7 linked regions of the Homo sapiens genome follow. The protein of the gene in region 3 purifies or fractionates together with the protein of the main gene of each other region. This does not show direct contact. Each region holds a gene or a part of one and is shown on either strand. Other genes may lie near its edges. The genes, in order: OSGEP, UPF3A, API5, PRKCZ, XRN2, TBC1D23 and LSM12.

What was found.
Region 1: the proteins of API5 (region 3) and OSGEP fractionate together in Homo sapiens (co-fractionation; one large-scale study listed by BioGRID). This does not show direct contact.
Region 2: the proteins of API5 (region 3) and UPF3A purify together in Homo sapiens (affinity purification with mass spectrometry, with the first as the bait; one large-scale study listed by BioGRID). This does not show direct contact.
Region 4: the proteins of API5 (region 3) and PRKCZ purify together in Homo sapiens (affinity purification with mass spectrometry, with the first as the bait; one large-scale study listed by BioGRID). This does not show direct contact.
Region 5: the proteins of API5 (region 3) and XRN2 fractionate together in Homo sapiens (co-fractionation; one large-scale study listed by BioGRID). This does not show direct contact.
Region 6: the proteins of API5 (region 3) and TBC1D23 fractionate together in Homo sapiens (co-fractionation; one large-scale study listed by BioGRID). This does not show direct contact.
Region 7: the proteins of API5 (region 3) and LSM12 purify together in Homo sapiens (affinity purification with mass spectrometry, with the first as the bait; one large-scale study listed by BioGRID). This does not show direct contact.

What each region holds. Positions count from the first base shown.
Region 1 is NC_000014.9:20,448,857-20,451,812, reverse strand, and holds part of OSGEP (tRNA N6-adenosine threonylcarbamoyltransferase), read left to right. Parts: intron 1-2,546; coding exon 2,547-2,642; intron 2,643-2,799; coding exon 2,800-2,849; intron 2,850-2,956. UniProt on the Homo sapiens protein: Component of the EKC/KEOPS complex that is required for the formation of a threonylcarbamoyl group on adenosine at position 37 (t(6)A37) in tRNAs that read codons beginning with adenine.
Region 2 is NC_000013.11:114,298,601-114,302,100, reverse strand, and holds part of UPF3A (regulator of nonsense transcripts 3A), read right to left. Parts: intron 3,262-3,500; coding exon 3,101-3,261; intron 371-3,100; coding exon 76-370; exon of another isoform or gene 50-75; intron 1-49. UniProt on the Homo sapiens protein: Involved in nonsense-mediated decay (NMD) of mRNAs containing premature stop codons by associating with the nuclear exon junction complex (EJC) and serving as link between the EJC core and NMD machinery.
Region 3 is NC_000011.10:43,321,996-43,325,495, reverse strand, and holds part of API5 (apoptosis inhibitor 5), read right to left. Parts: coding exon 3,360-3,500; intron 2,067-3,359; coding exon 1,860-2,066; intron 1-1,859. UniProt on the Homo sapiens protein: Antiapoptotic factor that may have a role in protein assembly. Negatively regulates ACIN1. By binding to ACIN1, it suppresses ACIN1 cleavage from CASP3 and ACIN1-mediated DNA fragmentation. Also known to efficiently suppress E2F1-induced apoptosis.
Region 4 is NC_000001.11:2,165,411-2,168,910, reverse strand, and holds part of PRKCZ (protein kinase C zeta type), read right to left. Parts: intron 621-3,500; coding exon of another isoform or gene 344-620; exon of another isoform or gene 1-343. UniProt on the Homo sapiens protein: Calcium- and diacylglycerol-independent serine/threonine-protein kinase that functions in phosphatidylinositol 3-kinase (PI3K) pathway and mitogen-activated protein (MAP) kinase cascade, and is involved in NF-kappa-B activation, mitogenic signaling, cell proliferation, cell polarity, inflammatory response and maintenance of long-term potentiation (LTP).
Region 5 is NC_000020.11:21,341,331-21,344,830, reverse strand, and holds part of XRN2 (5'-3' exoribonuclease 2), read right to left. Parts: intron 742-3,500; coding exon 623-741; intron 1-622. UniProt on the Homo sapiens protein: Possesses 5'->3' exoribonuclease activity. May promote the termination of transcription by RNA polymerase II.
Region 6 is NC_000003.12:100,319,992-100,322,864, reverse strand, and holds part of TBC1D23 (TBC1 domain family member 23), read right to left. Parts: intron 2,089-2,873; coding exon 1,894-2,088; intron 1-1,893. UniProt on the Homo sapiens protein: Putative Rab GTPase-activating protein which plays a role in vesicular trafficking. Involved in endosome-to-Golgi trafficking.
Region 7 is NC_000017.11:44,035,672-44,039,171, forward strand, and holds part of LSM12 (protein LSM12), read right to left. Parts: intron 2,514-3,500; coding exon of another isoform or gene 2,418-2,513; intron 1,868-2,417; coding exon 1,741-1,867; intron 1,432-1,740; coding exon of another isoform or gene 1,234-1,431; exon of another isoform or gene 1,191-1,233; intron 630-1,190; coding exon 537-629; 3' UTR 1-536. UniProt on the Homo sapiens protein: Nicotinic acid adenine dinucleotide phosphate (NAADP) binding protein. Confers NAADP sensitivity to the two pore channel complex (TPCs) by acting as TPC accessory protein necessary for NAADP-evoked Ca(2+) release.

The sequences.
Region 1 (2,956 bases), on a different chromosome or scaffold from region 3:
AAATTTTGGCAGCATGATCAGAACATTAGATGGCTTATCATTATCAGACTTTATATCTGATTATAAAGATTAGGAATTTCTACTTCAGGAAAGGAATGAATGGGATTGAAAAGGATTGAAATCTTCAAAATAATGAATATCTGAAAGCTCTTGCATTATTTTGAAGCTTATTTTTTCTATAAATCTTAGCAATTGAAACTAACAGTTGCTGGGTATGGCAACTCATGCCTGTAATTCCAGCACTTTGGGAGGTCGAGGCGGGTGGATCATCTGAGGTCAGGAGTTTGAGCCCAGCCTGGCCAACGTGGCAAAACCCCATCTGTACTAAAAATAACAAAAATTAATTTGATGTGGTGGCAGGTGCCTGTAATCCTAGCAACTCCGGAGGCTGGGCAGGAGAATCACTTGAACCCAGGAGGCGGAAGTTGCGGTGAACCGAGATCGCACCATTGCATTCCAGCCTGGGCAACAAGAGCAAAACTCCGTCTCAAACAAACAAACAAACAAAAAACAAAAAAAAACAACTAAAGGACACTACCTGATTTATTATTTTGGGGCAAGTACATGTTTTGTTTTTATATTACTGGGAATGATTATGTAGACTTTGTTATTCTAAGAGTTTAGAAATATAAATAACTTTAAAAAATACTTTGTAAATTATAGAAGGTATTTTATTTTATCTTATTTATTTATTTATTTATTTGAGATGGAGTTTCGCTCTTATTGTCCAGGTTGGAGTGCAATGATGCAACCTTGGCTCATTGCAACCTCTGCCTCCCGGGTCCAAACTATTCTTCTCTACTCCCGAGTAGCTGGGATTACAGGCACCCGCCACCATACCTGGCTAATTTTTTGTGTTTTTAGTAGAGACGGGATTTCACCCTGTTGGTCAGGCTGGTCTTGAACTCCTGACCTCAGGTGATCCACCTGCCTCGGCCTCCCTAAGTGCTGGGATTACAGGCGTGAGCCACCATGCCCGGCCAGAAGGTATTTTAAATTTATAGGTGAAGCTAAAGTTGTTTGGGTTACCTTATATGACCTTTTTAAGGTTGGGATTGGATTCTTTTCCAACAGAACACTTGATTATCATTAGAAATAGTTCAGCATTGTCCCCAGCTCATGAAAGGGTTGTGTCGAGAAGATGAGGCACATGTTTCCCATGAAAATGATGCAGAAACTTCAGCAGGTAGAGGGCAAGTAGTTGGTTGAGGCCTGAAGGATGACATACAAGGTCAGAGACTTGGGTTGTGGAAAGTATAATGGAGGCTACAAGAGTTGATGAAAGGAGCAGTGACGGTTTTGTCTTCCTCTTCTCTTTTAATGTTTGCTTAGGTGTAAGAAACAGGGAGGGTGATTAGGTGGAGAGGAGTGGATAGCAGAAGCAGAAAGGCAGGATTTTTCCTTCGCCTTTGTTACTGTCTTTTTGACAGCAGATTAAGATCTGTATCAGAAAGGGAAGAAATCCCTAACAGCACTGGGAAGGGAAAGGGACTTCTTAAGGTTCGTAGGAAGCCCTCGGTGTTATAAGTCTGCAGAATATGTGTCAGTAAGGGACAGATATTCTCTGTGCTAAAAGTTGGTCACATATGAAGAACGGCCTTAATACAAAAAAGTGGTGGTGGGTGCCTGTAATTCCAGCTGCTTGGGAGGCTGAGGCAGGAGAATTGCTTGAACCTGGGAGGCAGAGGTTGCAGTGAGCTGAGATCACGCCATTGCACTCCAGCCTAGGCGACAGAACAAGACTCTGTCTCAGAAAAAAAAAAAAAAGAAAAGAAAAATGGCCTTAAGTGAATTGCCATTGCTGACTTGGCTGGGCCATTAGTCTGACTCCATATGAGATTTTTGAGTTCTTCAGCTCTGCTTCTTGGTTCTAAATACCACTGCCCAGCTGCATACGGTGGTTCACACCTATAATCCCAGCACTTTGAGAGGCTGAGGCAGGTAGATTGCTTGAGACCAGGAGTTTGAGACCAGGCTGGGCAACATAGTGAGACCCCCATCTCTACAAAAATATAAAAATAAGCCACACATGGTAGCCCAGCTACTCAGGAAGCTGAGGTGGGAGGATCCTTTGAGCCTAGGAGGTGGAGGCTACAGTGAGCTATGATCACACCACTCCACTCCAGCCTGGGAGACAGAGCGAGACCCTGTCTCAAAAAAAAATTACCACTGCCACTGTGTCATAATTTAGAAGGATTCATGTTCTCTGCCTCCAAGCAGAAAAGCCGGTTACCTACTATCAAGACTGCATTTAAGGGATATATTAGGAACTTCTAAGCCGGAAAACCAATGTATTTGAAATGACAATTTATTTCTGCCTGAACCTACACTGTCTAGGAATCTGTTCCTGGAATCCTCAGGGTATACAGATTTCTTCTCAAATCAGAGCTGTAAAAACTACCCATTCACCATTTGGGAAACACCTTTCTTCCACTTCTTATTGGAAGCCCTGGTGGTCATGTTGATCCTCTGCTATGTTTTTCTCCCAAAGCCAAATAATCCTCTTTACAGACTTGGGGTTTCATGGACTTCCTCATCACCCTTAGGTGATTGCATACTCGGAACATCGTTACCGTATCTTTGGGGAAACCATCGATATTGCAGTGGGTAATTGTCTGGATCGTTTTGCTCGAGTGCTGAAGGTAAGCCAGTGGGGCTGCAGAGAACATAAAATGTGGGTGAATTTTTGGGAAGCCATGGAGGTGGAGGGAGGAAATAGTAAATGAGCTTCTTATGCTTCCTGCATATCTGATTTCATCCTCTTCCATTCCCTCCTTCCTTATTTTTTTCTTCTGCTAGATTTCTAACGACCCAAGTCCAGGATACAACATTGAACAGATGGCAAAGCGGTAAGGGGACATAAGGTGGAAGCAGGCTGGCTGCTGGGGCTTCAGGGATTTCCCCATATACGGTATATATTAACAAAATTTGGGACGGGCTTTGGAGGGTGAGAAGC
Region 2 (3,500 bases), on a different chromosome or scaffold from region 3:
GGGGTGACATGGTCAGCATGCAGCCTGGACCTTAAGACAGCCAGACACATTTTTCTTTTTGGGTTTAATAAAAACCTTGTTTGCCAGTCGCTCTTTTCTGGGTGCTGGACTGTCGTCACACCTCTGCGCTCTTCCCAGTCTCTCCATGGCCTCCCCCGGAGCCCCGCTGTCCTGGCTCCCCTTCTTCCCTCTGTCTTGGCCAGGTCCTTTCCCCCATCTCTGCTCATCCTCACTCCTTCTGGAAAGCCGTTCAGGCTCGTGGTGAGCTCTGTGCCTCCTGCCGTCATCCACATGGTATCTTTGTGCTTCAGATTCTTGTTCTTGAGATCTCTCCACATCCCTGTGCTCTTTATCACTGCCGCTGTGTGACCTATGATTCAACACAAATGATCAGCAACTGCAGTAAACCGCCGGTTGGCTGCCCACCCTCCTTTCTAGACCACAGGTTCCCAGACAACAGGGACCCATGCGAAGTGCTCAGCGCTGCACTGCTGAGGCTGCACTGCGATGGGCACACAGCAGGCGTTGATAAAAACCACTACAAAGAGGAATAAATCATAGTAATAGTATCTGTCATTTCAGTTGAGTGACAGATAGGCAATATGCCTTATACTAAGGTACTTTTTTTTTTTTTTTCTGAGATGGAGTCTCGCTCTGTTGCCCAGGCTGGAGTAAAATGGCGGGATCTCAGCTCACTGAAAGCTCCGCCTCCTGGGTTCACACCATCCTCCTGCCTCAGCCTCCCGAGTAGCTGGGACTACAGGTGCCCGCGACCACGCCCGGCTAATTTTTTGTGTATTTTTAGTAGAGACGGGGTTTCACTGTGTTAGTTAGGATGGTCTCGATCTCCTGACCTTATGATATGCCCATCTTGGCCTCCCAAAGTGCTGGGATTACAGGTGTGAGCCACCGTGCCTGGCCATGCTAAGGTACTTTTTATACATATTTTCTAATTCTCAATAACCCTCCAAAGTAAATACCTTCTTTTGACCAGGCATGGTGTCTCACGCCTGTAAATCCCAGCACTTTGGGACGCCAAGGTGGGTGGGATCACCTGAGGCCAGGAGTTGGAGACCAGCCTGGTCAACATGGTGAAGCCCCCTCTCTACTGAAAATACAAAAATTAGCCAGGTGTGGTGGCATGTGCCTGTAATCCCAGCACTCTGGGACGCCAGGGGCAGGCAGATCATTTGAGGTCAGGAGATTGAGAGCAGCCTGGCCAACATGATGAAATCCTGTCTCTACTACAAATACAAAAATTAGGCCAGGCACAGCGGCTCACACCTGTAATCCCAGCACTTTGGGAGACCAAGGCAGGCAGATCTCCTAAAATCAGGAGTTCGAGACCAGCCTGACCAACATGGAGAAACCCTGTCTCTACTTAAAATACAAAATTAGCCAGGCATGGAGGGGCATGCCTGTAATTCCAGCTACTCAGGAGGCTGAGGCAGGAGAATTGCACGAACCCAGGAGGCAGAGGTTGTGGTGAGCTGAGATCGCACCATTGCACTCCAACCTGGGCAAGAGGAAAACTCCGTTTCAAAAAAACAAAAAAAAAACAAAAATTAGCCAGGCATGGTGGCGGGTGCCTGTAATCCCAGCTACTTGGGAGGCTGAAGCAGAATTGCTTAAACCTGGGAGGCGGAGGTTGCAGTGAGCCGAGATCGTGCCACTGCACTCCAGCCTGGGCGACAGGGCGAGACTTTGTCTCAAAAATAAAATTAAAATAAAATAAAATAATAAAACAAAATAAAATAAACCTTCTTTTCTACAGATAAAATGACTGAGACTAAAGTGGTCCAGTGGCTGTCCTGGGAGCCCAGGTGCACATCCATCATGATGTGCAGAGTAAAATTAACTGACATTTAATAATGGCAGATTAATTATCTTTATGCATTTATCAGAATATTAAATGAATAGTAAATAAATGGCTGCTTCGCTCATTTGCCAGGGCTGTTGGGGACCATAAGGATCTGTAACCAAGTATGAATTCACAGCAGACACGTGGCAGTAGGTCCTGCTGTGTCATCAACTGTCACAGTAACAACACCGGTAACATCATCACAGTGCTTCACAATCATGGATTTGATAATCATATATAAATTTTATAAACAAAGCAATAAACCAAAACTCCCAAGAAGTAGAAAAAATACTTCATCAACTCTGAACGAAAGGCAGTGAGAAATCACACCTACGACTATGGCTCTGGGAAGCCGGCAGCCTAATCGCATTAGTCTTCCCACCTAAAATCCACGTCCATCATCCCCTGTGGGCCAAGTGGCCCTGGGCACCAGGAGACTGTGGGTGGCGAGAGGCAGTGAGTGGGCAGGAGTCCCGGAGGGGAAGGTAAGCCCAGGTGCCTGGGGCCCTGAGGATGGTGGATGCCAGGAGCAAGAGGGACAGGATCCCTCCTGACTGGCATCTGGCTGGTCTCTCTGGCCCACCGGGCAGATAATGCTGTGTCTGTCCCTTTCGCAGATGAGCTCCCTCCATAGAGCTGCACTGTCATATGCAGCAAAGGAAAAGAAAAAGGGAGGACCCACAGTGCACAGCCAAAGCTGCTGGTCAAGATCCACAGCCAGAGGAGCCAGGGACAGCTTCAACCAAAGGATCACAGCACTTAAAATTCTGTTTCTCTATCACAAAAGATCTGCCAGACCTAAAAGAGGGGGTTCCCAAATATGCAATTCTGTAGATAAATTGCAAGGGGGATAAAAGAGCAAAGGGCAAGATATCACAAACACAGAGAAAAATAAAAAACAAAAAACAAAAAGAAAGACTGGGAAGACAGATCCTGAAGACCTGACATGCAACAGCAGGAATCCAGGAGGCGGCTCAGGAGTAAAAGGAGGACATGGAGGCAAAAGCAAAGCAAACAACAGGAAGAAACTCCCGATCTGAAGACAGACTTGAGACTGCAGACAAGACGAGTTCACTACGTTCCTGCCATGCTGATGGGAAATGAAGGCTAACGTGTACTCGCACACCCTGGAAAGTCTTGGATTCCAAGAACAGTGTGAAATAGGCATACTCATACTGACAAAGCCTACGTCACCATGACTGGGAGCTGACGTGGTCATAACAATGAAAGCACGCTCACGTCTCCTGGGGCTCCTCCAGCGAGCCTTCCATGGGCCTGGCTTTTACGACTGCACCGGGGGCACAGGATTCCTGCTTGCCACCTCCAGTATCAATCTCCTCTCCTCTTTCTTTTGGTTTCTCTGTGGTTGGTTCCTCTCCCTTTTCTGGTTTCTTAAGAAGCTGAGAAATTACAATGTTAGTAAAGTATCACCTTGAGAGCATATTTTAAAAGAAGCTGTTAAATAAATAATTACAAATATACCCCAATATTGAAGCCAAATGTTTGCACAGCAAAGAATTAAAGCTAAAGGTCCAAAAATGAGGTTTTTGGTTTAATACGTGGTGGAACATTCAGTGAATGAAATATTTTTTAGTCATGAAAAGTAAGGTAGGTTAATGTGATGCAAAGATGTTCACGT
Region 3 (3,500 bases):
ATCATCGGTCTTCTTCATTTAGGGCATAAACAAGATTAAATTTTTCCTCGCAAATTGATCTGCTGCAATGGGCTTTGACGTTGTCTTGTCCCTTCTTAAAATGAGTGATCCATTTGTAAACTGTTGATTTCTTTGGGGACATTGTCTCCATAAACTTTTCATAAAGCATCAATGATTTCACTATTCTTCCACCAAGCTTCACCATAAATTCGATATTTGTTCTTGCTTCAACTTTAGCAGAATTCATGTTGCTCTGATAGGTGCTCTTTTCAAACTGATGTCTGACCCTTCTTAGTTCCTCAAACTATATCCTGTTCAGACATGTTATAAGTACAAGTTTATTTTGGTGAAAAATGTTTTGTAATCCATGCGTAGTTTTTTTTTTTTCTTTCATAATATGCATTTTCCAGGAACTTTTTGAAGACCCCTTATATACTTTACTGCAAAGTCATCTGGAGCATTGGAACATCTATACATTTTGATCTCTTCCTTGATTCTCTGGTCAAATTTGGGGCATGGCCAGGCATGGTGGCTCATGCCTGTAATCCTAGCACTTTGGGAGGCTGAGGCAGGTGGATTGCCTGAACTCAGGAGTGCGAGAGCAGCCTGGGCAACATGGCAAAACCCCATCCCTACTAAAAATACAAAAAATCAGCTGGGTGTGGTGGTGCTTGCCTGTAATCCCAGCTACTCGGGAAGTTGAGGCACGAGAATTGCTTGAATCTGGGAGGTGGAGGTTGCAGTCAGCCAAGATCATGCCACTGCACTCCAGCCTGGGGGATGGAGCGAGACTCTGTCTCATAAATAAATAAATAAATAAATAAATGAATTGTGGACATCTTTTAGTGTTGGATTTTCAGACTGCACATTTCTCAAAAGGGATAATTCTATTACTTAATTTTTTTTGTAGAGACAAGGTCTTGCTCTGTTGCCCAGGCTGGTCTTGAACTCAGCCTCAAGTGATACTCCCACCTTGGCTCACAAAGTGCTGGGATTGGGATTACAGGGACGGGCCACCACGCCTGCTCTAGGATAGTTCCTTTAAATTGTGTTTTTCAAATGAATGTATGCACATCCCAGAAGATGCATGGCCTCAGGAAACACAAAGCCTGAGACAGAATGCAAAATTCTCATGACTTTCAAAAAAAGTCTCTAGGAAGACTTAAAAAAAATTTATTGGCCACTCATGGTGGCTCACACCTGTAATCCCAGCACTTTGGGAGGCCAAGGTGGGCAGACTGCTTCAGCTCAGGAGTTCAAGACTAGTATGGGCAACATGGGGAAGCCCCGTCTCTACAAAAAACACAAAAATTAGCCGAGTGTGATAGTGCATGACTGTAGTAGCAGCTACTTGGGAGGCTGAGATGGAAGGAAGGCTTGAGCCTGGGAGGTAGAAGCTGCAGTAAGCCAAGATCGTGCCACTGCACTCCAGCATGAGTGACAGGGCAAGACTCTGTCTCAAAGGAAAAAAAAAATTCTTTCTTTCAAGAAAGTTTCTTGCTGCTTTGGGTTCTCACCAACACCACTGTGGCCTTCATAAACACAGACCAAGCATCCCTCATCTGAAAATCCCAAATCTGAAATGCTTCAAAATCCAAAACTTTTTGAGCACCAATGTGATGCTCAAACATCACGCTCAAAGGAAATGCTCATTAAAGCATTTCAGGTTTTGGATTTTTGAATTAGGGATGCTCAACCAGGCACAATGCAAATATTCAAAAATCTGAATACACTTCTGGTTCCAAGCAAGCATTTCAGATAAGGGACACTACTGGAAAGGTTTAAGGGGAATGTTAAAGTGAGTATTTATGGAAATATATATATAGCTAATACCGGGTGTGTAAAAATAAAGAGCTCACAGAGAAGAGGGGTACTGCCTGCCGAGTGCACTGTAAGAGCCTGTCCACACAGTCAGGATCCGAGGGATTGAAGGTCTGTTCTAGGTCGGCCTGTTCAGCCACCAACTCTACAAGTTGCTGTCTTCCACTCACTGTCTGTAAGCTTTTTAACCCAGACAGTATCTTCATAAATAGAACAAATTCTTCACCAGTCACATCTTCTAGGACCTGGAAAAGAGACAATTCAGAATAAGAGTATGTTCATCATTTGAATGGGACAGATCAACACTGAAAGAGAATAGCTAATTTATTTCAGTTACTAAAGTCAGTTTGTTATTAATGCTTCCAAAATACTGACGAAAAGGCAACTTCTAGCTTCAGTCAATTGAGCTTCAGTGTAAACCACGCATTCTCCAAGGGGGCAAAAATTGGTTCTTAGAAAATGTTACTTTTTTACGTACAAAGCACAGATATACATGTAGTACCATAAACAGATATACAGTGTATATGTGGCATTAAAATTTCATGGGAGAGCAGTTAAGAAAAAAAAAAAATTAAAAAAATTGGCTATTTAGGGGAGTGACTTTAAAAAATGGTTGGAAAAATTCTGTAGCAAACTGTTGAATCAGATTGTATCCTATATTTAAAAGCAGCCTAATTCATATTAATATGGTAATTGTTGTATACAAAATAGGTCACCTTGCAAGTCTCATGTTAAATCTTCCATATCAGTGGGTCTAAATCTTTCTATTCATGGACCAAAAAAGCTCACAATCACGACATACTCTACCAGATTACAAGCTGGGGCATAGGTAAAATAGTCTGATACTCCCAGCTAAAGATCTACTTTTTTCTCACTGAAAAATAATCTTATCAATAAGGAAGTGGGTAGTAGTAGTCTGAAATTTCTAAAGCCTGAACCATAACAGTGATCACATGCTTTAGATAAAATGCTGAATCTTCTGTAACATATTAAAAAAGTAAACTATTCCCAAACTTTGGCACATTAAGATGAGTGAAAAGTTAATTGTGACGCACCTTGCCAATCTTAGCGTCTACAACTATGCTAGATGCTGGGAGCAAAGACAAGCATGGTCTCACCCTTGAAGAGCAGATAGTGTCAAGGGCTAAGGTGACAACAGGTCATTTTGATGTGATGTTTCATTTTGAAATAATTTAGAATACTATGAGAGAGTATCCTAAAATGGAAGGGAGGGGTAGGACTTAGGGAAAGTTTCCTGAAGGAGGTGATTTGCAGAGGTTGCACAAATTTTAAGGACACTACCACGAAAAGTTTAAATGTAATCAGATTCCTTTAAATTACCAAATTGATTCATCATTACCACCGACAAAAGTGCTAAATTCAATCTAAGAAAAACTTAGAAGTTCTATGGTGGTTCCAATGGGATATATGATATATCATTTTATACACAAGCCACACATAACATTGACGAATACTGCCAATGTCAAGTATGCTCTTTTGCTTTAGAGAATTTCCACCAAATGAAGACCAAAGCTCACCTTTTTGGATTCAGTTAGTATAAGCTCTTCCACTTCCTTTGTTAAGACTTCATCTGGTAAAGTCTTAAGTTTTGTAGAAAGGAATTTAATTGCTCGTTCTCTAACAATGTCCTCTCCTTGAAGTATTTGGCTGAACAACCC
Region 4 (3,500 bases), on a different chromosome or scaffold from region 3:
CACATGGTTTCTCTTCCTAATAAGATCTTTTCCTACATTTCATGAGACTCAATTTTCAAAATTAAATTCTCATACAATCTCCCAGAAATACCCTGTGGCGGGTTTTTTTAGGTCAGCGGCTCCTCTGGCACCTGAATTGTTTATTTGCTTCCGACTGGTGGCTGCTCCTGGCTGCCCCTCGTGGAGCGGGGAGTGAAGGAGGGAAGCGTGTGGTGACTCTGCCCGTTTCCTTCGATCCCACGCAAGCTCCCACACCACCGCCACTGTTACGCCTCAAGGCACCTGTCCCTGCTCCTGCCCTCCACAAGCTCCCAGAATTAAGCCAGAGAGGACAGAGGCCAGTTTACACAGGGCAGGTGAACTGGCTGCAAATCATCTGTGAAGTTTCTGATTGGAAACAAACTCCTAAAAATCGAAAGAGCCCTGGGCCCCAAGTGAGGAGCTGGAGAGACGTCCACGTGGCCAGTCGGGCACCCTGAAGAATAAGCCGTGCCTTTGGGGAGCGGCTGGGGAAGGCTCGTTCCTCGGCTTTTGTTGTCTCCCCTGCCTCCAACGGATGTGCCTGGAAATTCTCTGGTAACCTGGCCCTTGTCCTTGGGGACTCGCTGGTCCACTGCTCCCTGTTTTGTAAATAAAGTTTTATTGGAACGAGGCTATGCTCACTGGTGCATCTATTTTCTATGTCTGCTTTCCAGCCACCGTGGCAGAGGGAGTTGCTAACAGAGACCCTGTGGCCGCAAAGCCAAAAATGTCTACTCTTGGGCCCTTCAAGAAAAAGTTTGCCAATCCCCGGTATAAACAAAATAGCAATGACAGAAAGAGCAGCTCTGAGGGTGCCCTCGATGTGCAGGAACGTCCTCAGTGCACCCGTGGAGGGACTCGTTCAGTAACGTCAACCCCACGGAACGAAGCTCCATGAAGGCCTCCAACCCCTGGAGGACACCCACGACCTAAGAGTCGGTCAGAAAACGTTAAGAAAGAATTTATTCAAAACCCTTAGAGTGCCTGGGCGTGGTGGCTCACGAGGCCTGTAATCCCAGCATTCTGGGAGGCCAAGGCAAGCAGATCACCTGAGGTCAGGAGTTCGAGACCATCCTGGCCAACATGGTGAAACCTCATCTCTACTAAAGATACAAAAATGACCCAGGGCTGGTGGTGTGCACCTGTAATCTCAGCTACTCGGGAGGCTGAGGGCAGGAGAATCGCCTGAACCCAGGAGGCACAGGCTGCAGTGAGCTGAGATTGCGCCACTGCACTCCAGCCTGGGCGACAGAGCAAGACTCTGTCTCAAAGAATAAAATAAAAATACAAAAAACCACAAAAACCCTTAGGGTGACTTCACCGCACATTTTTTGCCACCAGGAGTTACACGCCCCAATGGGTGCTGGTCCCTTCCACCTGTCCCCCCGAGAGGAGCCACGTTCACCCCAACAGTGCTGCTGCGGCGCCTGGGAAGGGCCTCCACGGCCTCTGTGGGTTCATCCTAACTTTAAGCTATCACGGCCCATAGGACGGGGACAAAGCCAATGCCATTTCCAGAGAAAATAAAGAAATACATGAATTCTAGAGAAAAGCATCAATACAATGCCTCAGGAGGCTGAGAGAATTTGGGGGACATTTAAACACTTAGAGAGGTAGAGGCGGAGGCCGCTTCCCCTTCTTCTCCAGAGAAAAGCCAATCACGGGAACTGTGCTGAAAGCCAGTTCTCTCTGCCCAAGGCCTAGGACCCAGGCAGCTTGCTGAGGAAGGAATTTATTTAATTTGCAACTGCTCAAGCTGCAATGATGGTGGGGTTTTTTTGTCTACAGAAAAACCTTAATGCTACTTTTGACATTTCTTCAGAGCAAAAACCCACCAGGACAATCTGGTGTCAATTCACTCTAAGGCGACTCTGCGTGACACAAGCTGAGCTGGCTGCTGACAAGATGCCTGGGACCATGGCTGAGCATGCTCCGAGCCCACTCCTCTCCTCACGCTGGTGGTGTGCACCTGTAATCCACATGGGCTCGGCCCACTTGGGTGCCCCACAGGCGCTGTCCTGCATAGAGGCTCTCAGGCAGGGGCGCAAGGCCAGGCCAGGGGCGTGTGTGGCTTCACCCGTAGCCCCTCAGTGACACACACAGTCCTGACCCCAAGGGATGCTGGGAAGCACAGCCTGGGGGTGGGGGTGGGGGGCTGAAGGTGCCCCTCCATGTCCTGGTAGCCACACTCGCCATGTCGTGGCCTGGGGGGGGCTGAGGCTGCCCCTCCGTGTCCTGGTAGCCACACTCGCCATGTCGTGGCCTGGGGGAGGGGGCTGAGGCTGCCCCTCCGTGTCCTGGTAGCCACACTCGCCATGTTGTGGCCTGGAGGCGCTGGGGATGCCCCTCCCTGCTCCCTGTCCTGGCATTAACGCTCCTCTCATGTTTGCAAGGGGAGAGGAGCAAGCAGAGCCCAGATGGGAGGCGGGAGGCGGGAGTCATGAGACACGTGCCCTCGGGGCTGTTTTTCTGAGACAAGATCTCACTCTGTCACTCAGGCTGGAGTGCAGTGGTGTGATCATGGCTCACTGCAGCCTCGACCTCCCAGGCTCAGGCAATCCTCCGGCTTCAGCCTCCCGAGGAGCTGGGACCACATGCTTGCACCACCACCGCCAGCTAATTTTTAAATTTTTTGTAGAGAAAGGGTCTCGAGATATTTCCCAGGCTGGTCTTGAACCCCTGGCCTCAAGTGATCCTCCGGCCTCAGCCTCCCAAAGGGCTGGGATTACAGGTGTGAGCCACTGCACATGCCTGTCCATGATACTTAATCAAATACACAAACGTGAAGAACGCCAGCAAAAATGGATTCATCAACAACCAAAGACAAAGTGCAGCTCTCAGGAACCAGGCGAGACGCAGACCGCAGCCGGATCCAGTCCCTGACCCTGCCCTGGAACCGGCACCATCCAACAGACATGGGAAATGGAGGGACAGTGGCCGCAGGGGGATGCTGGAAGCTCACGAAACCTCCTAGGGGGCGGCCGGGGGCTGAGGGAAGCTCACAAAACCTCCTAGGAGGTGGGCCCTGTCCTTGGTGCCGCCCCCTCCTCGCCACTCCCCCCACCCCTTCCAGGAATGCAAGGTGCCCGGCTCAGAGGGAGGAACCACAGCCCTCTCCTGGAGGCACAGGAGACGCTGCCCTGAGAGTCAAGAATTAACCAGATGGGTCCGGGCGGGCCACCACCATGTGTGTACAGAAAGTTCTGGTGGAACACGGCCACACGCGTCCCTTCACGCAGTGTCTAAGGCTGCTTCTGTTTTAGAACGCATAGTTGCCACAGAGGCCGCATGGCCCACAAAGGTGGAAATATTTACTGCCTGACCCTTTAAGACAACCTTTGCTGACCGCTGGTGTGGCCCTCAGTAAGCGTCAGTCTCCAAGTCCCTCTGTGTTAACGCACTTGACCCCATCACCAGGAAGTAAGTTCAGCTCTCGCCATTTTACAGATGGGGAAGCCGAGGCACAGACAGGTTAGGGG
Region 5 (3,500 bases), on a different chromosome or scaffold from region 3:
TGTTAATCTTATTATATAATGATCTCAAACTTCAGGATGAATTAAAGAATCAGCTTCCTATTTTAAATTTGAAGTATACAGTTAAAGGGAAACTCCTCTGTCATGAAATATAATTGCGCATATGCAAGTCTGTGGTTTTTAAAAAACATACATATTGATCTCTTAACAGAATGATTTCTGCATATTTCATTTTGAGGAAGAACTCTTTCAATAGAGAAGATTAAGGCAAACTATATTAAGTGTCTAAGTATAACTGAACTTTCTAGGTTAAGCAGCTTGAAAATTTAATCAGTCTCCAAACAGCAACATTCAGATCACATAGTCAGAGCTAAACACCTAGATATGATATCTAGCCGATCTTGTGCCTGGTCTCAGAGGGAAAAGTGGATTGGAGGACGAAAGCCTGCACGCATACTAATCTAGACACTTAGGTTTAACAGCTACAGCTTACACATCTCACTGGAATTTACTGACTATTCTAACCCTCCACATTAATTACTGATGGATAAAAAGATCACAGGCAAGCATCTGAAGGCACTGCTGCTCTAAGCTAAATAGCATTAATTAGACTGCATCTATTTCAGCAATTTGCTAACAAAGTGCTACCAAAAAATGGCTTCACCTGACATTATCCTCTGGCTCAGGTTCACTGTCACTGTCTTCTGCTTTTCGCTTAATTCCTCCTAATGGAGACGGGGAGCCATCAGATGTGAAACTCGTATTAGGAGATATCGAAGGACTCTGCAGACAATGATGACATTACAGAAGAAGGATTTCATTATTCATTTTACATAAGAAGGTACATCCAACCACCACTACTTACCATGTTTCACAGTAACATTTTTAAAGCTACTACATAGAGATGGTAAACATATTTAGAAGGTACAGAGACTGATCTTGCTCCATTTCACTTCCCCTCAAAAGAAGTAATGTAATACCCAAACTTTCTATGCTTAAACTAAAAACAATTAACATTATTAGGGCAAAAAAAAAAGTTTCTGAAGAAAAAAAAAGTTTTAATTTTATAGATTTTTAAAAATTATAGTACTTGAATTTTATTTTCCTTTGGTGGTTCACAATCATTTGTGACAATCAGTTGTAACAATTCCTGTTAGGAATTCACAATCATTTGCCACCTACCAAATGGCAAAGCTATGAGGGGAAAAAATTATGTGATATATAAAATGCATTACATATATAGCATATAATATATAATAATATAGATGTAATAATATATAAAATAGTCAATGCTGGTGAGAATGCAGCTAAATGGTTAAGTCTTCAACCTAGTACAACCACTCTGAAAAGCAAGTTTAATAAGACTGTGTTAGATAACTTAAATTACTTTATATGTTCAGTTTTAAAAATCAATCAACAAATAAAAATCTATTAGTCATCTTAGAAAAATGCAGATTTTATTGGTATTTCAAAGACTTAGCTGTCACTTTAAATTCAGTATTATCTTCCCTTTGTACCTAACTCAATTAACATAATACGTTAATTTTAATTAACATATTTTAATATAACCCTAACATATTTTAATATTTAAAAATTAAAAGAAAATGTTCTGCAACTTTAGTTACTCAAGCTAAAGGACCACATCACCAAAAACATAAGGGGCAGAAACATTTCCACAGTCAAGTTTTTCTTCTGTTACTCACAGTATATTAGCTATTTCAAGTAAACTGAATTTTTTTTAAACTGAGAGCACAGAAGGCCATTTGAATGATATAATAATTAGAGTATCCACAGCATAAACACAGTTCATACCACAGGTCAAGAAAAGTTAAAATAATACGAAATCATATTTCACATAGAACTTAGAGCACATCTCTTTTAAAAACATAATGTCAATGTTATTAATGAAAAGGTACAGACAATATTGTCAAAAAAAAACCCAATAAAAATAAATACAGGAAGGCACTGTTGTACTTGGAAAACGAGGCAGGTATTGTTGTATTTTAGTCATACAGATCTGAGTCTGAAATACCAAATTCAACCTTTACTGGCTGTGTGGCCTTGAACAATTTATTACTTAACCTCTGTGAGCCTCATCTTAAAATGGGGATGATAACGTTCTGTTTCCTTACAAGTTATTGCAAGGATTAAATGCATCAATACATGTGAAAGATTACTGGCATGCTGCCTACATGGTACATGGTAGTTAACCATTCAGTAAGTAATCACTATTGTTTTTTCAACCCTACACTAATCCATTTGTATTAAATTATGAGAGTGACATTCCCATTAACTGTCTACAGAGAAGTTGTGTAAAAAGCAAACTTTAACAAAATTAATTACTAACAAGATATAAACTCTATCTTTAGAAAACAAATAATAATATACTTTCTAGAAAAAAATGCTGTTCACCATTTAATGCTAAATCTCCGCTGCTGTCTCTACCAACAAAAATATTCCCTTGTGAACATACCAGATTCATATTAAATTCAAATTTCTTCTTAAGCTGTTTTTTTCATCAAATTAGATATAATGAAACCACACTGAAGAACGCTAAATATAAAACCACAAATATAAGGAAATGGAAGCTATTTAATAAAACACTAAGAATGTTAATCATCAGTAGATAAGTATTAGAGACTACAACCCAACAGCTCAGAAAAATAAAACACGAGAAATCTGTAACTTTAATGGCTCCCTTTAAATAAACTGGTAATTTGACTTCAAAATTTCCTTAAATTTAGAACATTCTAGGTGAAAATCCCACTCTGCAAAGATTCGAATTCCATACCTCCTCTATATAGAAATAATTGTGGCAAGGGAAGTTAATTAAGACAGAATCAAAGAAGCAACCTCATCACCAGTCTCCCCATTACTACTCCTATGGCAGATGTTATCGATCTACAGTCTGGTCCTGTGGCCTAATACTACCGGGCCTGAAGATAATACTGGAATGCTTCCTGAAGCAACCACAGCTGGCAAAGTTTAAACCTGCCTGCCTCCCAAGATTTAAAAAAAAAAGTACTCTACCATCAACAGGGCATATAACACCACCAGTCACTCTCAGTTCTGCTCTGCGGGGATGGTAGTCACTAAAATCTTGAATGATGGGCATCAGCTATTTCTGTTCCATATGAGCATCAATAGGATAACTAACAGAATAACAGAAATTAAATATCCAAGCTTATTCAATTTCCTTGGATATATCATAGCAAAAGTGTATGTTCCTTCCTCTACTGTTAGATCAGGGTCTGTTCCCTCAGCCCTGTTGCTGTCCCACTGGGTATTCTGAGAGCTCATGGTCTATTTCCACTACAATAGGAAGGTGGTGGACAAAGTACAGCCTTGCAGGATAGGTTGATTTGCTTCTGGAGTTTGGATTACCAAGTTCAAATATGGAAGAATACCACAAGGCAAATAAATGCATGCAGTTGCTGAGTTCACAAACAGGGAGTAACCAGTAAGTGCTACCTTAAGATATTTATTTAGATCTATTCCATGCTGAATTGGAGAGCCAGAGTTTACACCTAAGGAATACTATT
Region 6 (2,873 bases), on a different chromosome or scaffold from region 3:
CATAAATATCAATGAAGAAAGGGAGAGAGAGAATCTAGTTACTTTATCTTCCACTATTAAGACTATCTTCCAAAACTCTGAATTAAAAAAAAAAAGATGTTGATCCATATATAATAAACTTCAATTTATTTAGCAAAATTTGTGGGAAAGCCTTTAAAACACAATTCCCAACTTTTACTATACATGAGAGAGTCATAATTCAAATCTCCTTTGGTTAGGATTAATTTATAAGTAGATATTAAAATGTGTATACCTCTCACCCATTGAATCTACTTGCAGGAATTTATCCTGAGAAGACTAATTGGACAACTATGTAAACATACATGTTTTTAAAGGCCCACTAGAAGATTAATAGTGAAACACATGAAAACAATGTAAATGCCAATCAACATGAGGCTTGTTAAATCAATCTCCTGAGAAATCCTTATAACAGAATATCTACCATTAAAAAGCTAAGAATTTATATTTATTGGGCCGGGCACGGTGGCTCACTCCTGTAATCTCAGCACTTTGGGAGGCCAAGGTGGGTGGATCACGAGGTCAGGAGATGGAGACCATCCTGGCTAACACGGTGAAACCCCATCTCTACTAAAAATAAAAAAATTAGCTGGGCATGGTGGCGGGCGCCTCTAGTCCCAGCTACTCGGTAGGCTGAGGCAGGGAGAATGGTGTGAACCTGGGAGGCGGAGCTTACAGTGAGCCGTGATTGCAACACTGCACTCTAGCCTGAGTGACAGAGACTCCGTCTCAAAAAAATTAATTAATTAATTTTAAAAAATTTATATTTATTAAAATGTAAGTATATTCACACTATACTATTTTCTTAAAAAATCAGAACACAAAAACAAGCCTATATCACATTTATCTAGTTTTTAGTAGAGAAATAACATATGCATTAAAAAAAATCTGAGAAGATACACATCAATGTGTTAACAGAGAATTAGAATGACATATTCTTTATATTATTAATTGAAAATATCACTATGTAAATATTTATTCTTACATAAAGCAATGAAGTGATTTTTTTTTTTTTTACAAATCAGGTATTATTTTCTTTTAACAAATTACATAAAACAGTATAGATTCATGATGTTTGCTACCTAATTGTCAGTACAAGATGAAAGAAGCTGAATAATTTCCTCTTCCAACTGAAGTTGATTATTTAAAAGTGCTGCGATATAACCTTAAGCTTACTATTTATCCAAGCACTCCTGTAAATAATAAGTGTAATCCTAAATCCCAGTGGGGGAACAACTTGAACTGATGCAAGGTATAATAAACCACAAATCAGGAGTCAGGAAGGCTATATTTGGTTCTGTCACAAACTAAGTGTTAGGATCTGGGAAGTCATTCCACCCCTCTGGGCTTCATATTTTTATCTATAATTAAAAAATGGTTTAGTATCAATATCAGTGTGGTCCACAGCTCTTGGGCCAGTCTGTGAACTGTTAGTGACCCACAATGAGACAAAGGGGGGCTTGTACCAGGCTGTAAATTACCTATATCACCCAGCACACTGCTTAGTTCACTGACAGTTTGTCAAAACAAGAATTTTTCGATGAAGGAAAATAAAAATATCAACATATTCTAAAACAAGTTTCTTATTTCTCTGCAAGCCAGCAATTAGTGCAGCACTGGTACAGATTAACAATAAGGATCCTTGGGTCAGAAACTTTATGAAATTAGCTATGGCACTTACTCAAATCATGTGCTAATGGCTAAACCACACATGACTAAGGACTCCGGAGAAAGAGATAAGAAACACTAAAAGTGGTTCAGCTATCCTATTCCACCATCCATTCCCCAAAATAAAGAAACAAACTCTTTATAGTGAACTACAGTAATTCAGATAATATCTGAATTCAGATAATATTATCTTAAGGAAAATCTTACCTTTCGATTGCCAAGATTTCTATTCCTGAAGCACTGCTATTTCCATACTTGAAGGTAATGAGTTCAGGATGTTTTTTTTTGGATGTAATTTTAACTACAGAATTCAGCGCTTGTCGAGACTGTATATAAGCCAATCCTTTCCGTGAAACAATCTCCCTTAAACAGTACATATGTGTTGCAGTAACCAACAGATGACTTGAGACAAAAAAAGCATTAAAAGAAAAAGAATTTTTAAGTAAATTTAATTCAAAACAGGTGTTGTTTCAACCATCTCAATTATTAGAAATGTTCAACTCTAAATAAAATTGAGTTAAAAGATATAAACAGAGGTTAATCTATAAACAAGTAAGCTACACATTAACACCTTTTAATTGTATGCAAAATTAATATTTTATTAACAGATAATCCTGCAATGATTGAAAATATAATAAATATAATAAAAAGTTCCATACAACATAGAAATCACTACAATAATATATTTTTTATTGAAATGGAGTATATTACGTTTCAGATTTTTTAACGCTATTACCTATATTCATAAACTATTCTCATTCAATGCACCATATCCTATATCTAATATCCAAGATCACTAGGCAATTGTTGGGTTTCCCTACATATTTTGTAAACATTCTGTAACTGGATCCTGAAGGCAAAATGAGCATAGTATTATTAACACTCACCCAACCCCTGTATCTCAGCTTCTTTTTAATATAATACTCTCACATTTTTTATGTACAGTAATACAATACGACAGTTATCAGACAAGTGCAGAATGTGGAACATTCTGTAGGATGATTGACCTGGACTCAAAGGATTCATTCATCATGAAGAGAAAAGGGAAGCGAGGGGGTGGGGGGATGAGTTCTGCTGTACACAGGGTGAGACTAAAGACACATAACAGACAATGCAATGTGTAAACCATGAACTGGATCATGGATCACCAAAGAAAAAACACACTACAAAAGATACTTTGGGGACAC
Region 7 (3,500 bases), on a different chromosome or scaffold from region 3:
CTGTGCAAAAAAAAAAAAAAAAAGAAAAAAGAAAAAAAAAGGAAAAGAAAACAAAAATTTAAAGTGAGACGTTTGCTGCTCTGGTCTCAATTTAAGAATCACAGTCAGCTTGTTACTTTTATTTTGGAAGAAAAGATGTAAAAGTTTCTTTCAATCATTCAGAAGGCAAGTGTAGCCACTTATAAAAACAGAATGGCAGGAACAAACTAGGAAAGGAAAGTCAGAAGTAAAGGGCAGAGTGGGAAAATAATTTTCAAAAATAAAATTAACAAGGTGACTGTTCCAGAAGAGGGCTGTGAAAAGGACATGGTGGACCGAAGTCTGTTAGTCAAGTAATGATTCAACTTTTAAATTATTCTCTTGTTCTTTTTTGTTGGGTGTTTTGTTTGTTCAAGTCTAAGATTTGGAAATGCTGACCCTTTGTTAAGAGCCAACAGGACATATAGGATCCCTTCCCTCCCCCGGCCTGCCTCCGCTGAAGCCACCACCAGCGCCTCCTTGGCTGGATGCTGGAAGAGTCCTCCATGTGTACGGACTCAGGATGACAGGGCAGCCTCCTTCTGTGGTTGCTGGGCTTGTGAACGTTGCAGTATCTTTTGGCTTTCCACGTCTCTAAAATGTTTTTCAACCTGAAAAAGACCAGGCAACCCAGGTCAACAAAGGAGATGCGGAAGAAAGGTCTCCCAAACAATCCAACCCAGGTTTCCACAGCCCCATCCTGGCTGTCCAGCCCATTGGTGTCCAGGCACCTTTGCCCTTGCTGTCTATTGGCCTTCCCAACCACAAGGTAGGCCAGGGCCTCCTGCTTCAGCCACATTTTTTTGCAGTTTCCACTAAGATTGGCTAGAAGAAGGTGAATCTACAAACTAAACTATAAAATATAATAAGGGGAGATTATCATGACCTAAACTCCTCCTCTCTTCTATACCCAAGTACAAAATGAAAAGCTGCTGGGGGAATTACAGTCTTATCAAACCTCCTACATCTACAATGTTGGTCTCTCAATGTTCCTCAGAGGAAAAAAAAAAAGCAGGAGTGTTTTTTAAGTTTGTTTTAACAAATGCTAAGTCCAGTGACATATGTAGGGTCAGAGACACCGACGGCAACTGATTTATACCAACCAGATCTTTCTAGAATGGTACCTGCAGCTAAGAAAAACCCAATATGGGGCCAGGCGTGGTGGCTCATACCTGCAATCCCAGCACTTTGGGAGGCCAAGGTGGGCAGATCACTTCAGGTCAGGAGTTCGAGACCAGCCTGGCCAACATGGTGAAACCCCATCTCTAGCCGGGTGTGGTGGCATACGCCTGTAGTCCCAGGTACTCGGGAGGCTGAGGCAGGAGAATCGCTTGAACCCGGGAGGCGGAGGTTGCAGTGAGCTGAGATCGCGCCACTGCACTCCAGCGTGGGCGACAGAGCGAGACTCTGTCTCTAAAAAAGAAAAACTCAATATGGGATGAGAGAAACTGCTCAGGCCCAATACCATGGAACAGTCTTCCTAATTCCAAAAAGCCAGCAAAGGACATAGGGTCACCCACTCACTTCTTTCCACACCACCCAGTGGTTCCATTCCCACAGGACTGCAGAACCCCACAGTACAGGGAAGGCAGGGAGGCCAGACAGGGCCTCTGCTGCTAGAGGAGGCAGAGACTGTAGCACAATGTCCTGGTCTGGTGCTAAAGACTGAAGGCCTGAGGAACCATCCTCTCTCCCCTAAAGTCTGAAGGCTCCTTTACTTACTATTTTGCGTACATGGCTCAGTGCACTCCCCTCTTTGCCTTTACAGTTTTCCACTTGATATGGGGGTGTAATAACAACTTCTTCCATGACTACGATGTTTTTTTCTTGCCATTTACAGTCTTTAATGCTGGAAGGAGAAGACAGCAGGCGAAATGTAACCTCTTGGGGGCATCCCACATCTCCTGTCTGATGAATAAATAACTCCAGAAGGCTGATCCCAAGTTCCCAGCTCACCACTCAGCCAACAACTAGATGCCAGCAGCCCATATAGTAGCCAAGAAACATTCCTTGGGTGCCACTGGCTAGAAAAGCAATGAAACTCATGCACATTTATTCTTGGGAGAGCCCAGAAATTGTTACTCTGAAGCATCAGAGATCTGGAGAGCCATAAAAATGTGATAGTGGCCTCAAGAATCCAAATTAAGATAGCAGCCTAGGGCAGAGGCTGGCAAACTTTTTCTCTTAAGGGTCTTGTAACAAACATTTTAGGCTTTGCAGTCCATATCATCTGTTACAACTAGCACTGAGTTCTGCCATAGTTGTACAAAAGTAGCATGGACAATAGGTAAAACAGATGAGCAGATGTGGCCTGCTGGCATAGTTTGTCAACCATTGGCCTAGGGAGAAATACCACCTTTAGAAAGACAGGAGAACAGGTCGGGCGCGGTGGCTCACACCTGTAATCCCCGCGCTTTGGGAGGCCGAGGTGGGTAGATTGCTTGAGTCCAGGAGTTCGAGACCAGACTGGGCAACAGGGCAAAAACTCGTCTCTACTAAAAATACATACAAAAAATTAGCCGGTAGTGGTGGCATGCGTCTGTAGTCCCAGTTACTCCGGGGGCTGAGGTGGGAGAATCACCAGAGCCGGGGAGATTGAGGCTATAGTAAGCTAAAATCGCACCACTGCACTCCCAACCTAGGCAATAAAAGTGAGACCCTGTCTCAAAAAAAAAAAAAAAAAAGAAAGGCCAGGCACAGTGGCTCACGCCTGTAATCCCAGCACTTTGGAGGCCGAAGTGGGCGGATCATGAGGTCAGGAGATCGAGACCATCCTGGTCAACATGATGAAACTGTCTCTACTAAAAATACAAAAATTAGCTGGGCGTGGGACTGCGCGCCTGTAGTCCCAGTTACTCAGGAGGGTGAAGCAGGAGAATCGCTTGAACCTGGGAGGCAGAGATTGCAGTGAGCCAAGATTGCACCATTGGACTCCAGCCTGGTGACAGAGTGAGACTCCGACTCAAAAAAAAGAGAGAGAGAACAAACTCCCCATCTTCCTATGATCTGTACTCTGACCCTTATCACCCATAATGGGAGCTGCTCTTCAGACTGGCTCTTCTCAATTATCAGACAGTTGGGCACTTGCCAGACTGGGAAAACCCATTCCAGTTCACACTTGGGAAGCCCCAGGGCAGCTGATGCGACTGGGAGTTCCTTCACATACCTGTAAATGTTCAGATACTCACACCACAGCCTCAAACAGCTCTGATGCCAGCTGCCATCTGTGCACCAGATCCAGGGTGGTTAAACAGAGTAACAGATGGCAGTGTGGGGTGGGGGGAGGCGGGGTGGAGAGGGGTGTCAAATGTTCCAGTTTTTCAGCAGCTAGGGAAGCTAGTGGAGAGTCAAATGACTTCTGCTGTGACAAAATGTTTTTTTTTGAGACGGAGTTTTGCTCTTGTTGCCCAGGCTGGAATGCAATGCACAATCTTGGCTCACCACAACCTCCACCTCCAGGGTTCAAGCGAATCTCCTGCCTC